Regions from separate parts of the Homo sapiens genome. Here region 2 is linked to region 1. A link means that fine-mapping ties the variant in region 1 to the expression of a gene that starts in the linked region. Tissue or cell type: whole blood. Region 1 holds a variant in brackets; the other region holds the start of a gene. All regions are shown on one strand. Distances are from middle to middle.

Region 1 (8,107 bases):
TTTTTATTTATTTGTGTCTTCTCTCTTTTTTTCTTAGTCTGGTTAAAGGTTTGTCAAATTTGTTTAACTTTTCAAAAAAAAGTTTTGTTTTGTTGATATTTAGTATTATTTTGTTTCAATTTTATTTATTTATGATCTGATCTTTATTATTCCTTTTCTTTGCCTTATTTTTAGTTTGGTTTGCTATTGCTTTTCTAGTTCTTTGTATTTGTTTCTGTTTCTGGATGGTTACTTGTACTTTTGTCTGGAATATAATCCCCTCTTTCTTTATTTTCCTTGATTCCCTCTTTTGGTTTCTGCAAATTAGATAAGATTACCTCTCTTCATCTTGTTAGACTGGTCTTGTGTATGAGAAGGTTTTGCCAATTCAACTGGCCAAAGATTTTAAGATGCCTCCAAAATCTGTGTGTTTGTCCAGATTGCTATCTTGGTTTTTGGTGGCCCTCTGGAGCTTAGGGCATGTCACATTTTGTCAGTACTCTGTTATCAGTATAAGAGCTAAGCTCTTAGGATGAAGCTGAAAAGGTTGAGGTTTTTGATATGTGTTCTAGTTCTTTCTATTTTCATGGTGAAGATGATGGTGGGCATTTATCTTGTAGTCTCTCTGCACTAAACTAGGAAGGGGATCTGCAGCAAATGCCTGTTCTCACATGCAGGCTACATTTTCTTATCCTAGACAGAGAGCTTCTGGAAATGGTCCTACTATATGTCTACATGTTTGTTTTCTGTGGTCTTGGGTCACTCAGATTCACAAAGCCCCCTTGATTTCAAAGCTAGGTCTCTAAGGAGACAGTTCCTTAGGTGGGAGCTATGGAAGTTGTGGCATTTGATACATAGCTAAATTTCTTCCAGAAAGAATGAATAGGCCTGGATTTATCTCTGGAGTAAGCTGAGAAGAGGTCTCAGAAAGTACCTCGCTCTTGCTTTGGCAACCAAAAGCTTGTTGTTTCTTTGTCCTGTTAGCTTCTCAATATAAGTTCATTAGAAACCAGGCCATCAGGTAGCCACTGGGAGTGTGTGTTATATGCTCCTTATTGAAAGAATGTGAGAGTGCACATTCCTGCCCCCTTTCTGCACTGTACCAAGGGAATGGTGCATCTGGAAGTGTTTGGATACCCATTTAGTATCACCTCTCAGTTCTGTGATCAAGGGAGACTTGCATATGCCTAATCTCTTCTGCTTCCAGAACTACTAGGTTTAGGGTGGAGTTCTTGGGAAGTAGAGTTAGAACTTTTTGTTCTCTATGTGTGACCTCTATTTCTTCTGGGAAAACACAGAGAGAGCATCTTTTTAAGCCCCTTTTCTGTATTGCTCCAGTGAGATAAACTCCCTGGAGGTGCTTGCATGCCTGTCTGAAATGCCACTTTTTTTCTGCAGTGTAGACAGACGTATGTATGCCAGTCCTTTCTGTTCCCAGAGCCAGGAGATTTAGATTCTCCTTATTGCTCCAGGGAGATAAAATCCCTGAAGTTGCTTGCATAAGCCTCAAGGGATTTTATCTGGAGCAATACAGATAATCTAAAACTGGTATGTATCTGAAATACCACTTTTTTCTGCAGTGTAGAGAGATATGTACATGCCAGTCCTTTCTGCTCTCAGATCCAGGAGATTTAGGATGCAGTCCCTAAGTGAAGTGATAGTTTGACGTTTCAGTATGTATTAGTCTATTCTTGCATTGCTATCAAGAACTACCTGACTGGGTAATTTATAAAGAAAAGAGGTTTAATTCACTCACAGTTTCACAAACTGTATAGAAAGCATGGCTGAGGAGGCCTCAGGAAACTTACAATCATGGTAGAAAGCAAAGGGGAAGCAGACATGTCTTACATGGCTGAAGAGGGAGGAAGCAAGAAGTGGGAGGTGCTGCAGACTTTTAAACAACCAGATCTCATGAGAACTCACTCACTATCATGAGAACACCAAGGGGAAAATCTGCTCCCATGATCCAGTCACCTCCCACCAGGTCCCTCCTCCAACATTCAGGATTACAATTCAACATGAGATTTGGGTGGGGACACAAAGCCAAACTATATCAAGTGTTAGTGCAAATTTCTCCAGGGTTGGAAAATGGGCTAAGAATTGACTATCTTTTTAATTCTCCAATGCAAGTTAGGCAGAAATCCAACGGCTACGCAGCCTTTCGAGATGTTTCCAGGGAGAAACAAAGGACTGTTTTTTAAGTTTATTTCCTGCAATGCTCCCAGGTAGATGCAGTATCTAAAAGTGCCTGTGCACCCATATAAAACTGCCACTTTATTCTTTACTGTCTAGAGAGACACATTTGTGTCTGATATCCTCCATTCCCATAGTTGATGACTCAAAAGTTAAACCAAGGGGAAACTTAGGATTAAGACCCTCTACTGGGGTCCAGACCCTCTTCTCCACAGGGAGAAGCTGAATGTTGGGTGTTTCATTCCCAATTTTATGGTGCAGTGCTTATAGCTGGGTCTGTGTCCATGTATGCCTTGGTTTTTCCTACCTCTTCAATGTAAATGTTTTCTCAGTTTCCCAGTGGATAGGAGTCTCTCAACTGGTCTCAGACTTTCACTCAAAGGGAACTGATGTGTGAACAGATGTTTACTTGGTGAATCCATGGGTGGAGGGGGAGTTAGGAGCTTCCTATTCCATGTTCCTGATATCACTATGCCTTTAATTTTTACAAAAGTTTAATTAAGCATAAAATATTTATATTGCCACATTATAAATCAATACATGAACACACAAAAAAAGATTTTTATTGCCCTAAATCATAGTTATAAGTTGAGAATGAGGGTAAATATTTAAGCATTCTGACCCCAAAGCCCATTCCCCTTAACTGCTAAATTACATTGACTCTAATTTGATAACATTACATTTTTTGAAATCAACTCCTGATTCCTTTTCATTTGATATTTCTTACCTCAACTTATCCTTTCTCCTCTCACATTTAGTATAAATAGCAAGAGATTTCAAAACTTGGAAACTTCCTCAGTTAAATATACAAGTCCATCATTTTTAAGGATTCCTTTCCACACAACTGCAGGATACAATTCTGCTAAACTTTCTGCCACTATAGAGCAAGGATGCTTTTTCCTTCACATTCCAATAACACACCATTTATTTCCTTCTAAACCCTTACCAGAAGTGCCTTTAACATATATATCTCTATTAGTAATCTGATCACAGAGATTTAGGTATTCTCACAGTGTTTCTTAACACAATTTTTATCATTCATTATAGTTAAATTAATCTAGAAGAAAGAGCATAGGACAATAAAATAAAAGGAAGAATATATATGCTGGTATTAACTGACTTCAGAACCCAACTCTACTCTTTTGTACCTATAATACTTCGGGAAATTACATAATGACTATATTTAAGTTTCCTGGTCTTTATAATGGAGATAACAATAACTCTTTCAGAAAATTGTTATAAAAATTAAATGAGGAGATACATATACATATATCTATATAGTGAAACATGTATCTAACAAATGGTAAACACTAAAACTATTAGCTGCTATGTTGATCATATTATTTCTATTGACAAAGATGATCTTCATACTGTTACAAGTGATGGATAAATTAACTCTCATAAAACATGTTTTGGAATGACATTACAATGAATCCTCATCTCATATCAAACAGTGTAAGCCCAAGGACTTAATATTATAAACATGTTTATTTGTAATTGTTCTACCATGAGATACTCATAGTTTTAAATTACACTTTTAATTCAAAAATCAAAAACTGAAATTAAAGTTGTACTGTTTTATTTTCAAAATGCGGGAAAGAAAAGCTGTGTGTTAGATGGCTCCTTCACACCAGCTATTAAGGCCAGGTGTGGTGGCTCACGCCTATAATCCCAGCACTTTGAGAGGCCAAGGTGGGCGGATCACCTGAGGTCAGGAGTTCAAAACCAGCCTGGCCAAGATGGCAAAACCCCGTCTCTATTAAAAATACAAAAATTAGCCGGGCGCGGTGGTGGGTGCCTGTAATCCCAGGTACTTGGGAGGCTGAGGCAAGAGAATCACTTGAACCCTGGAGGCGGAGTTTACAGTGAGTCAAGATTGCGCCATTGCACTCCAGCCTGGGGGTCAGAGCGAGACTCCATCTCAAAAAAATAAATAAAAATAAATAAAAATAAAAAAGCTCATGGTTCTCCCATCTTAAAAACGTAGTGAATCACAATAAGTCATTGTGTCCTGTCCTTTCATTTTCTCCAGTTATTACCCTGTCTTCCTCCTGCCCTTCATGGCCAAATTTCTAGAATGTATTGCTCCTACTGGTTTTTTTCATTTTTAAAATTCTATTTCCTCAAAAACAACTTCACTCTGGTTCATGTTCTTACTTCTCTTTCCAAATTATTTTTTTCTGAAGTCATCAATAGCCTGTGTGGAGCTAAAAGTCAACAGATAATTAAAAGCTATTTTTTCACACCATCTCAGAAATATTTGGTGCAGTTGATCACTCCCTTCCTAAATACTCTCTTTTCTTGCCTTCAAAAATACCACATAGATAAGATGCACCCTTTCATCTCAAGTACTTTTTCCAGGACCATTGAAAAACTCCTGGACTCTAGGAGGATGTG[C/T]GATAGATAGCATGATGGAATCTGGAGTCTATATGTTGTTGTTATTATCAGTAGTGCATATACTAATCTGGCCATTATCTCACCAAACATTGTTTCCTCTTACCCACTTACTCAGGATAAAAGCAGATCTGAGGCAGCAGGAGAGGACTTTTTACTATTCTCACTTAAATACCCCACATCCAATCATGTATCCATATTTAAAAAAAATTCCTCTAATTTCAGAATCAGATTGAGAAATAAACACAACACAGAGTCCAGGTGGGAATTAATGTGGAGAAATTAGCAGCTGTTTTTGTTTTGTAAGTATTTTGTGGCAAAAACATATCAAAGAAATACAGCTATGTACTTACTCTTACTCCCAGACCCTGGTGGGGAGATTTGGCAAAATATCACTGATTATGCATGATGTGACCTTCTGCTGCAGTATTTCAGGGATGCTATACCATCAAATAGAATGCGTTTTCTTAAATATTAGGTTGGTGCAAAGTAATGGCAAAAACCCGCAATTAATTTTGCACCAACCTAAACATTCTCAATGTGGTATATTCATTCTGGCAGTACCTCCACACTGATGGAAGAGCACTCCCCAAAACACATGGCTTTCATCTCTGAGGCAGCATGAGTGGCACAAAAAAAGCATACATATTTTTTTAGGAGGGAGAGACAATGTCTAAAACTCCTGCCTTTTGGTTTGGCATGGGAATCGTGGGAGGCGAGAATAGCAGTCCCATCTAACGCATTAGTTTCAAAACTGATCGATCTTGTAACCTCTTTTACTTGCCTTACTCTATGTCCCAATGAATTTACCATATTGACCTGACAGTGAAAAGAAAATGTGTCCGGAATGGAGCAATGGGGATCATTCAGAATGAAAAATATTTTCATTTCTTGAAGACAGTAGAAGAAAAATACATTTTTTAATGTTTTTGACCAATTACTTTAATTAATTCCATTGGAAATTTGGGGTTTTCTTCCCGTGCCTATTTTTTTAATGCTGCTAGCAATTGAATAATAAATAATGAATAAAGTGAATGCTATTTTGGGGGTTTATGGAGGCTACTATGTTCCATGCACTGTGCCTACCAATATTACAAAGGCCTAATTAGTCACTGTCCATTTGAGGAGCTTAAAAAGGATTACTATGGCAAACATCCATAGAGTTTAATAATAATTTCAGTTGTATGATGGGTTCCAATTAGCAACTTTTAGTTTTATGCATTGGAACAGGTGATATAACTGACAGCAATAGGTATCTCTGGAAATGTCTTTAACAACTGAAAACCAACTTGCACATTAAACACTCATTGTTTTTAATATACTCCTCTTGAGACAAATATAATTAAGCTGCACAGTGGATGTATTCCCTATGGTCTCTAGTAGAAATAAAAATACTGCCTATTCTATCACTGTGCTATAATTTAGAGCCATAGGAAGTCTAGGAGCCCAAAAAGGAAAAGAAAGCTTACCTTGTGGTTCTAGGTATGTTCTCCTATTTGTAATTTCTTGCAAATTTACACTGAGGTTGTAGAAAGGAGATTCTGTCGATTTTGGCTTTCTTGGATCTTAGCTTTGTAATTATTTGCTTATTCTGTTCAGATCAAGTAAAATATGTACATAAATACATAGATAAACAGCTGGAAATATATTCCCTTTTAAGCCCTTAAGTGTAGCTTTAAGGAAGGTTATAGAATTTGGAAGACCAGAGTATAACACCTTTACATCTGAATCTATTAATTTTTATGTGACTCCTTTAAAATTATAAGTCTTCATATATTGCTTGCATAATAGCTTCTGTATATAATTAGTGATAAGACAAAAACAAAAGATTCAGAATATGCAACTTAAAAACCATTGTTTTTTCCAAATGTTTGTGAAAATTGCATATAATCCATAACTTAAAATCAGGAAGAAATATGTATTCGATGTAATTGTGTAGTTTAGAAAGATTTAACAGAAGAAATCCAGGTGTCTAGATTCTCATCTCAGACTACTGATTCTAGGAAAGCTCCTTTGCTGTGGTTCAGTAGAGAGATGTGTTAGGTGACTGCATTCCCATTAACCTGCCTTCTTTGTTGTCTGCACAGATGTTTAGCTCTGAGCCCACCATAGATGGAAATCAGTCCCTGTGTGCCAAATTCACATTTGTGGCTTTTTCTTCTATAGAAGAATTACAGCTTGTACTCTTCATTGTGTTCTTAATCATCACTTATGCACTATAGGAGGAAATATCATCATCATCTCCCTGATCTGGATCACCCCTGCCCTGCACACTCCAATGTATTTCTTCCTGGTGAACCTCTCATTTCTGGAGATGTGCTATACCACCAGTGTGGTGCCTCATGCTGGTGCACCTGCTGGTGGAGACCAAAACCATAAGTGTGGGTGGCTGTGCAACCCAGATGTACATATTTGCCATCTTGGGACTGACAGAATGCTGCTTGCTAGCAGCTATGGCTTACGATCGCTTTGTAGCTATTTGTTACCCACTGCATTACACTCTCTTCATGGGCCCTCGTGTTTGTTTGAAATTGGCTGCAGCATCTTGGTTCACTGGAGTGGTGGTGGAGTCAGCCCAGATCACCCTGATCTTCACTTTGCCTTTCTGTGGAACAGGAAAGATTCAACACTTTTTTGTGACATAATGCCTGTACTGAAACTGGCTTGTATTGATACCTCCCAAATTGAAATTGTGATGTTTTCTCTCTCCGTGCTATTTATTGTGAGTCCTTGTTTCCTCATTCTGTGCTCCCACATGCACATCCCTGTGACCATCTTGAGAATCCCTTCAGCAGCTGGAAGACACAAAGCTTTCTCCACTTGTTCTTCTCATATCTTGGTTGTTTCTCTGTTCTATGGCACTGCCTTGTTCACTTATCTGCAACCTAAGACTGCACACACTCCAGAAACAGACAAAGCAACTGCACTCATGTACACAATGGTCACACCTGCTTTGAATCCTGTTATCTATACCTTGAGGAACAAGGAAGTAAAGGAAGCCTTTCAAAGGATAACCCAAAGGAACTCTCTTAGACAAACGGCCTAAACCAGTCATAGTAGCTGAAACCTATGCTACTGTACAGAGAGGTTACCCGATTTTATGATTCTTCTACCAACATATTCTTTTATTAAAGCATTTATAGCCTAGCTACCAAAAAACATTTGGATTTGTCACACATTTTTCAATGTCTGTAAGTAAAAGGAAACTACACAGTAGATTCATTCAATTGTTAATCATTCATTCATTCAACAGTATTTACAGGGCATCTCATGTGTCAAGCTACCATTTTCTCCTTCTCCAGTGGTAATAGCATTAAGTCCAGTATGTTTCATGCCATTTTCCTGAGGAAAATGAAATATCCTTTATGAGTATAAAACAAAAAATGAAATAAACAGGAAGTAATACTATTTTAGTATCAAATATAGTCTATTAGAATTTAAGTTCTTAATTGGAGTATGCTCCTTTAATTAGTGTGCTCTCTGTACATCTTAAGGTCATACATATTAAATAACCAACTGTTAATAAATACTAATGAGTGGT
Region 2 (8,107 bases), 530 kb before region 1:
CCTGGCCACACCTGGCTAATTTTTGTATTTGTAGTAGAGATGGGGTTTCACTGTGTTGTCCAGGCTGGTCTCAAACTCTTGACCTCAGGTGATCCACCCGCCTCGGCCTCCCAAAGTGCTAGGATTATAGGCGTGAGCCACCGCGCCTGGCCTGGAGACTCCTTTGTGTTCCCCAGTCTCCACCAACCAGTAAATACATAGTGGTGATGTCGCCATGGAGCCCGTGCACAGTACTCCCCTGGGGGCTGCACTCAGTGCTGGTGCTGGGGCATATAACCTACTCTCTGGAGAGCCCTGCGGGATGGTCTATGAGCTTTTCTGCCAGCAGGACCTGCAAACGCGCAGGTGCAGCCCCTCCTTCACCCTGCGATCTGAGAGATGCCATCAAGCACCGTGCCTCTATCCTTATCCAAAGCTGAGGCCTCTGGACTTAAATTTCAGGCCCCCATTTCAGACCCAACCTCTGGACCTTGAATTTTATCCACCACTCTCCTTACCCTCCCAGTGGGGGGATGGCTTTGATGATGCATCCTTGTTTCCTTCTTCCCTCCCATCCCTATCTCTTCCTCTTCCCTCTCCCCACTCCTCTCTTACACCTATTTTTCAAAAATTAAAGAAAATGTTTTTTAAACTGAAGCCCAAGAAGCATTGATCCTTCATGTATTTTTGCCTCCTCTTCCCCCATCCTTCCCCATGCCTCCCACCCTCCTCTATGTCTCTCACTTTCCGGTTTTTCCTCACCCCTCTCCCAACTCTCCTCAACTGTTCTTTTCCCTTGATTCTGGATCCCTTCTTTCTTCCTCACCTTCCTCATATCCCCTCACCCTCCTCATATCCCCTCACCCTTTCCTGTGCTTAGATGCAGGCTACAAGCTGCTGTGCATGGCACTGGGTCTGGCTGATGCCTACATGCTCTCAGAAGGCTGCAGGTTTGCTTGAGACATCTGTGGCCCCCATGCTGTGTCGCTGGGCCTAGGTGGAGGCGTGGTGAAGCTGGAGGGAAAGCTGGCTTTGCTTGGTGTGGAGGGACAAGGGTCCCCGCCTCAGCACACCTACCACCAACTGGTGCCAGGCAACCAAGAGGCAGCAGCCTGGGCCAGCCAGGACGGCTTGGTGGCATATCTGGATGTCAGGCACTTGGAACAGGTGCTGGGGGATCTGAAGGATGTGAAGGGCCAGGTCTGAGATCAGCCACTTCCCACTAAGAGGCCCCTCTATCCTGCACCCCAGCAAACACATGGAGCTCTGTGTCAACTTTCCAGGCTGTAGAAGTGGGCCATTCTTTGTGTGTATGTGTGTAGTAAAATATATATAACATAAAATTCAGGGACATTGAGTACATACACATTGTGCAACCATCAGCACCATCCATCTCCACAACATTTTCATCTTTCTTTCTTTTTCTTTGAGACAGAGTCTCGCTCTGTTGCCCAGGCTGGAGTGCAATGGCACAATATCGGCTCTACTAAAAATACAAAATTATCCAGGCATGGTGGCGCATGCCTGTAATCCCGGCTACTCAGGAGGCTGAGGCAGGAGAATCTCTTGAACCTGGGAGGCAGAGGTTGTGGTGAGTTGTGCCACTGCACTCCAGCCTGGGCAACAAGAGCAAAACTCCATCTCAAAAACAAAAACAAAAACAAAAAACCTAGATGTTTATGGTTAAGGAAACAAATTAATAATAATAAAAAAGATAATATCGATTCTTACAAAATACAGTAATTAAGAAAATTAATCCTTTATCACAAACTTTTGTAGCAGAGCACATCTCTCCATATATACAAGCATTATACCGAGGGTGAATGTGTTCCTCCTCTTACTTTTTTTTTTTGAGACAGAGTTTTGCCGGGCACAGTGGCTCACGCCTGTAATCCCAGCACTTTGGAAGGCTGAGGGGGCGGATCACGAGGTCAATAGATGGAGACCATCCTGGCCAATATGGTGAAACCCCATCTCTACTAAAAACACAAAAATTAGCTGGGCGTAGTGGTGCGTGCCTGTAGTCCCAGCTACTTGGGAGGCTGAGGCAGGAGAATCACTTGAACACGGGAGGCGGAGGTTGCAGTGAGCCAAGATGGCACCACTGCACTCCACCCTGGTGACAGAGCGAGACTCCGTCTCAAAAAAAAAAAAAAAAAAAAGAGAGACGGAGTTTCACTCTTGTTGCCCAGGATGGCATGCAGCAACACGATCTCTGCTCACTGCAACCTCTGCCTCCTGGGTTCAAGTGATTCTCCTGCCTCAGCCTCCTGAGTAGCTGGGACTACAGGCACACATCATTGTGCCCAGCTACTTTTTGTATTTTTAGTAGAGACGGGGTTTCACCGTGTTGGCCAGGCTGGTCTCGAACTCCTGACCTCAGGTGATCCACCTGCCTAGGCCTCCCAAAATGCTGGGATTACAGGTGTGGTGAGCCACTGCGCCTAGCCCCTCCTCTTACTTTGGGGAACATCCTACTCTGTCTATGGAGCAGCTGTTGTTTCACCACTTTACTTTCTTAATAAACTTGCTTATACTTTGCACTGCGACTCGCCCTGAATCTTTCTTGCATGAGATCCAAGAACCCTCTCTTGTGGTCTGGATTGGGACCCCTTTCCTGTAACAAATGCATTGGCTGATAGGAGAATAAAGAAAAAAAAAGAGGAAAAACTAGAGTAACTTCTCTACATAATCATATTATATGACCGTTTTGTTAACCATGATAACAGTTAACAAAATAATTTTCTTATGTCTAATTCTCAGTCCATGTCTGTATGTCCCAAAATGTCTTTCACAGCTGGTTTGTTCAACCATTCAATGAAGGACCAAACATTGCAGTTGGTTGTTATGTATCTAGTCTCTCAATCTTGATCTTCAGACCACCTTCAGCCCATCTCACCACATCCGTCCCAAGCCCTTTGAGCCAGCCAACCCCAACCTGCCATGTACTTTACAAAATGCTCCTTTTTTTTCCACAGTCGACTGCTTCTCTGTCCCTGGAGCTCTCCCCTTTATTCTCCAAGGTCACCTTGAGCACATCCTTCTGCTCCGTGAAATCCATTCTCCTCTCCCTTTCCCTCCCTCTGAGCTTAACCAGCTGCCACCGCAGGCTTCTGCCTTTCTTCACAGTGTGGCCAGAACTCGGTTCTGCCTGCTAGCAGAGGGCAGGGCCGCTGTCTTCCTCTCCTTGCAGCCCCCAAGCCTAGCACATGCCTGGCATCTAGTGGCAGCACAATAAGGAACCTGATGAATACTCCTTTCTTCTGCTCTCCGCTCCTCCTCCACAGCCTGCCAGCCATGGTCAGGAAGAGCAAGATCCGGAATGGGCTTGGTGTGTCCCGCGGGAAGGCCGTGATCCTGGAAGATGCTTCTCAGCCCAGCCCGGATCTCCTTCCTTTAGCTCTAGAGACTTCTTTCATTCTTTGTGTACACACATACACTAAGACTCAGGAAGTGGTTCTTGAGGCAGGACCTTAAGAGCCCAAGGAGTGGGGCCGAGGCTGGAGGTGTGGGGGTGTGACGGCCGGTCCTACTCTCCGGCCTGTTCAGATCAGCTCCTTCTGGGGACCACCCCTGGCACACAAGGGAGGGAGGCAGCTTGATCCCCCTAGCCCGCTTCCAGCCCTCACCTGGCTTTGTCTTCTGGGATAAGACGGGGAAATCCAGAGGATGTAAGCCTCTCCTGCCTTCGTGTCTTCCCCCAAGCCCTCGCTATCACAGACGGATGCAGGAGCTGTCTGGGAGGCTGGAAGCACAGACCTTGTCAATCCTCCCCCAGAGGGCGGGACCCGACGCGGACGTGTCTTGATTGACTGGGTAGCGTGGCTTCGGGGAAGGGCTTCCTCCCCTTTTCTCAGACTAGGATCCCTGGAAAATGGAGAAGCTGTGCTAATAGAGGGGGGCCAGAAATCCCCACTCTAGAATGCTGTAGAATGTTGGGAGACACCCAGGATGTGAGCCAGGGACTTTCTGGAAGTGTTTGTTCTGGCCCCACCCGACCCCAGGCAGTCCCCAGCTGTCTGCACAGTCGGATGGGGAGGGGGCTTGCACAGAGTTGGAGCCAGAGGAGAGAGCTGGCTCATCCCCTACGGTAGGATGGGGAAACCTCACAGACCACATTGTCACCCGGCCTCAGCTCTCCGCCCCGGCGCTCAGAGGGTAACTCTCACCCACCTCGTCCGCTTCTCTGAACCAGAGTGACCCAGGCTGCGCTCCGCCCCGCTCTCCTACCCCGAGTTGGCACGGAGGTATAGCGCCAGAGGGGGGCCCCAGGCGCCCCGAGGTCTTGCCCTTGCGGCTTTCCCTTTGCGGGGGTGGGCGCCTTCTTCCGGGTAGGGGCCACGTGGCCCTGGCCGGGCGGGGGGCTCGGCCCACCCCGCGCCGGGCCCAGTGACTCAGGCCGCAGCTGTTACCGCGTCACATGAGGGAGGCCGGCGGCCACTCGGCGGGGGAGGGGACCGTGGCTGGAGCCCGGGGCGGGGCCGCGCGGCAGGCGGGGCGGGAGCCGGGGGGCGCAGCTAGAGAGCCCCGGAGCCGCGGCGGGAGAGGAACGCGCAGCCAGCCTTGGGAAGCCCAGGTGAGGCCGCGGGGACCCGGCGGACTTCGGCGCGGGCTGGGAGAGACCACCCGCAGTCCCTTCCTCCAGGGCTCGCCCCAGGCCCGCGGAGACTCGTCCGGCGCTCTCCAGCCGCCCTGGAGCAACTTTGCTTCGAAGTTCCCTGGGCCCGGGCAGGGTGTGGCGGGGGTGCTGGCTGCACTTTTTTTTTTTTTGGTGGGCGGGGAGGTCAGAGCCCAGGGGAAAGGGGCTGGGGCGGGGGTCGGGGTTGGGCTGAAGACCGTTTCTCCAGGCTGGGTGTTGGGTGGGGAAAGGGTGTTTGACGCCCGGAGACTGGCGGGCCGAGGGTCGGCGTCAGGCTCAAGCCCCTGCCGGCGCCCTTGGATCTGTCCTGGGCCCCAGAGGCGGCGGGGCGGGGTCCGGGCTTCGCGGCCGTCGCCCCCACCCCTCTCCTGCGGGTAAAGAGGGGGCTGGGAGACGTGGATCCGACCGCGGGTTTCCGGGTGGGAGGGGCCGGGAATCGGGGCCGTGAAGGGAAGCCCTCGAGGGCCGGCCGGGAGCCCGGAAACCGAGGTCCCCCTTCGGCCAGTTTTAATCCCCCCGCCCTCCCCTCTGCCCCAGGCCCGGCAGCCATGGCGGTGGAAGGAGGAATGAAATGTGTGAAGTTCTTGCTCTACGTCCTCCTGCTGGCCTTTTGCGTGAGTGGCGAGGGGTCCTGGGGGGCGCGCCGGCAGGGTGCGGGGAGACCTGGCTCCACAGTGGTGAGGGCTGAGGGAATGAGAATTAAGGCAGCTGGAGACCAGATGTGGAAAGAAAGCCAGGGAAAGACAGCGCAGCCACTCCCTCCTCCAGTTTTCCTGGACACCTGAGGCTTGTTTCCACCGAGAATGGCCATCCTGGGTGTGCAGCAACCCCTACCCCCATCCCTCCTGGCCCTTCCTGTCTGGTGACCCAACCACTTGTGATATGGGGCAGTGGGGCAACCAGCCAACCGCCTGATGCTATCGCCATGGGGCTTCCCTTCGCTCTCCCTTCTCCCCTCTCTCCCTCCCCAACCCTCTCATCCCTGTCCAGCCCCTCTCCCCCTTTCCCTCCTCCCAGCGCTTGGGGGTGAGGAAGGGCTCTGCCCACTTCAATTTGCTCCTGCCCTGGGCTCCTGGCTTGAGAGGCTACTGTTTGTCTAGGGAGGGACACATCACTCTTGCTCCCTTTTCCTCTTCCCTTCTCCTGGCCTAACTGGCCAGAGGAACCTTAGTCACAGCTGATGCGCGCGTGGGATGTGCACTGGAGGATAGTGAGGGGGCAGTTCTGGGAGAGAATTGAGCTGGGAGCCCTGGAGGCCTGTAGAAAGCATTATTCTAGGTCAGAAATACGTGTCTTGAGGTCAAGGCTTTCTGGGAGGTTTTTGAATTTGGTCATGTCCCTGATTAAAGAGCCGGGAGGGGATCAGGGGAGGTAGGGGCAGGCAAGGATGGGTCATCCCCCTACCCCACAGCCAAAGAAATTCCCTAGAGGTGTGAGAATCTCTCTTCCGGATGGGGTCAAGTCTGTGTCCTAGGTGTACCCCCTGCCCTCCACCATGGAGGGCCACTGTGTTGTGGATATGGCCTAATCCTCACCTGATTTTCTCTTAGGCCTGTGCAGTGGGACTGATTGCCGTGGGTGTCGGGGCACAGCTTGTCCTGAGTCAGACCATAATCCAGGGGGCTACCCCTGGCTCTCTGTTGCCAGTGGTCATCATCGCAGTGGGTGTCTTCCTCTTCCTGGTGGCTTTTGTGGGCTGCTGCGGGGCCTGCAAGGAGAACTATTGTCTTATGATCACGGTGAGTTGGGGGCGGGACCAACATGGGCGGTCTGGGACTGCCAGAGCAGCTTGGTTCGGGCTCAGGAAGGTGGGTGAGGTGGGTGGGTGAGGAAGACCTTTGTGAGTGTCCAGGGACCGGCTGTGCCAAAACGGGCCCCTGTAATGCATAGACTCCAAACTTGACTTCTGTCCTTTGCTCCTGCAGTTTGCCATCTTTCTGTCTCTTATCATGTTGGTGGAGGTGGCCGCAGCCATTGCTGGCTATGTGTTTAGAGATAAGGTAAGCAGGGAATAATGGGAAGGGCCTGCCTCAGCCGGGTCTGGGACCCTGGTGCTTGAATTCTGACTGCAACAGTGCTCCTCCGTACTCTCAGGTGATGTCAGAGTTTAATAACAACTTCCGGCAGCAGATGGAGAATTACCCGAAAAACAACCACACTGCTTCGATCCTGGACAGGATGCAGGCAGATGTGAGTGGGGTTGCTGGGAGCAGGGGTGGTGGGAATAGAGAATTCTCATCTCCAAGGCTGGGTGTGGTGACTCACGCCTGTAATCTCAGCACTTTTGAAGGCCGAGGTGGGCAGATCACCTGAGGTCAGAAGTTCAAGACTAGCCTGGCCAACGTGGTGAAACCCTGTCTCTACTAAAAATACAAAAATTAGCCAGGTGTGGTGGTGAGTGCCTGTAATCCCACCTACTCAGGAGGGTGAGGCAGGAGAATCGCTTGAACCCGGGAGGCGGAGGTTGCAGTGAGCCGAGATTGAGCCACCGCTGGGCACTTGTCTGGGCAACAGAGCAAGTCTCTGTCTCAAAAAAAAAAAAAAAAAAAAAAAAAGAATTCTCATCTCCATATTGAAGGTGAAGGTTCACTTAACAACCTTCTTCTCCATATTTCTTCCCTCCCCCAGTTTAAGTGCTGTGGGGCTGCTAACTACACAGATTGGGAGAAAATCCCTTCCATGTCGAAGAACCGAGTCCCCGACTCCTGCTGCATTAATGTTACTGTGGGCTGTGGGATTAATTTCAACGAGAAGGCGATCCATAAGGAGGTAGGGAGGAGACTGTGTATGGGACTTGGGAAACCTGGGAAATGTTTTAGAATGCAAGAGACCCAGGATGGAGGTGGACAGGGTCAGGGATGGGGAGGGGATCTGGAAATGCTAAGGGTGGGGTGAAAGGTACAGGGGCAGGGAAGAGACTGATGGACCAAGGGAGGGGGTTGGGGTGGGAAGTTTCTGATGGTGCTTTTGTCCTTTGTGCCTGCCACCTTCAGGGCTGTGTGGAGAAGATTGGGGGCTGGCTGAGGAAAAATGTGCTGGTGGTAGCTGCAGCAGCCCTTGGAATTGCTTTTGTCGAGGTAAGAGATAACCCTGAGCAGGGGCTGGGACTCTGTCCAGGGTGCCTGGAGGGAAGGGGCTGAGGGGAGGAGGGTGCTGAACAGGAGGTACTGGCCTGGGAGTGTGTGTTTGGAGTCTCTTGCATGGGTCTGAGGTAGCTAGCCCTTCTGACTCCTCTCCACCCCTGTCCCCATCTTTCCTTCTAGGTTTTGGGAATTGTCTTTGCCTGCTGCCTCGTGAAGAGTATCAGAAGTGGCTACGAGGTGATGTAGGGGTCTGGTCTCCTCAGCCTCCTCATCTGGGGGAGTGGAATAGTATCCTCCAGGTTTTTCAATTAAACGGATTATTTTTTCAGACCGAAAAGAGATGGTCTGAGTTTGTCTTAGAGTGATGCTTGATTCCTTCCTTTCCTTACTGATGTTCCCTGTCCTC

Evidence for each region. PIP is the estimated chance that this variant, and not a neighbour inherited with it, causes the effect.
Region 2: CD63 starts here. The variant in region 1 is fine-mapped to the expression of CD63 in whole blood (INTERVAL, PIP 0.97).

What each region holds. Positions count from the first base shown.
Region 1 is chr12:55,193,363-55,201,469 of GRCh38, reverse strand. It overlaps the pseudogene OR10U1P. Among named protein-coding and RNA genes, the nearest start is that of OR10A7, 24 kb to the left of the region's middle. The variant C/T (reference allele first, on the strand shown) is at 4,570.
Region 2 is chr12:55,725,401-55,733,507 of GRCh38, reverse strand. CD63 (CD63 molecule) reads left to right here and starts at 4,499. Exons shown (of 8, transcript NM_001780.6): 1 at 4,499-4,555; 2 at 5,156-5,232; 3 at 6,169-6,357; 4 at 6,544-6,618; 5 at 6,713-6,808; 6 at 7,247-7,387; 7 at 7,612-7,695; 8 at 7,882-8,107. The coding sequence starts at 5,167. The coding sequence ends at 7,947. CD63-AS1 (CD63 antisense RNA 1) reads right to left here and starts at 4,414. Exons shown (of 2, transcript NR_183514.1): 1 at 4,153-4,414; 2 at 2,656-3,846. RefSeq lists silencers at 4,153-4,532, 4,803-5,102 and an enhancer at 4,067-4,673.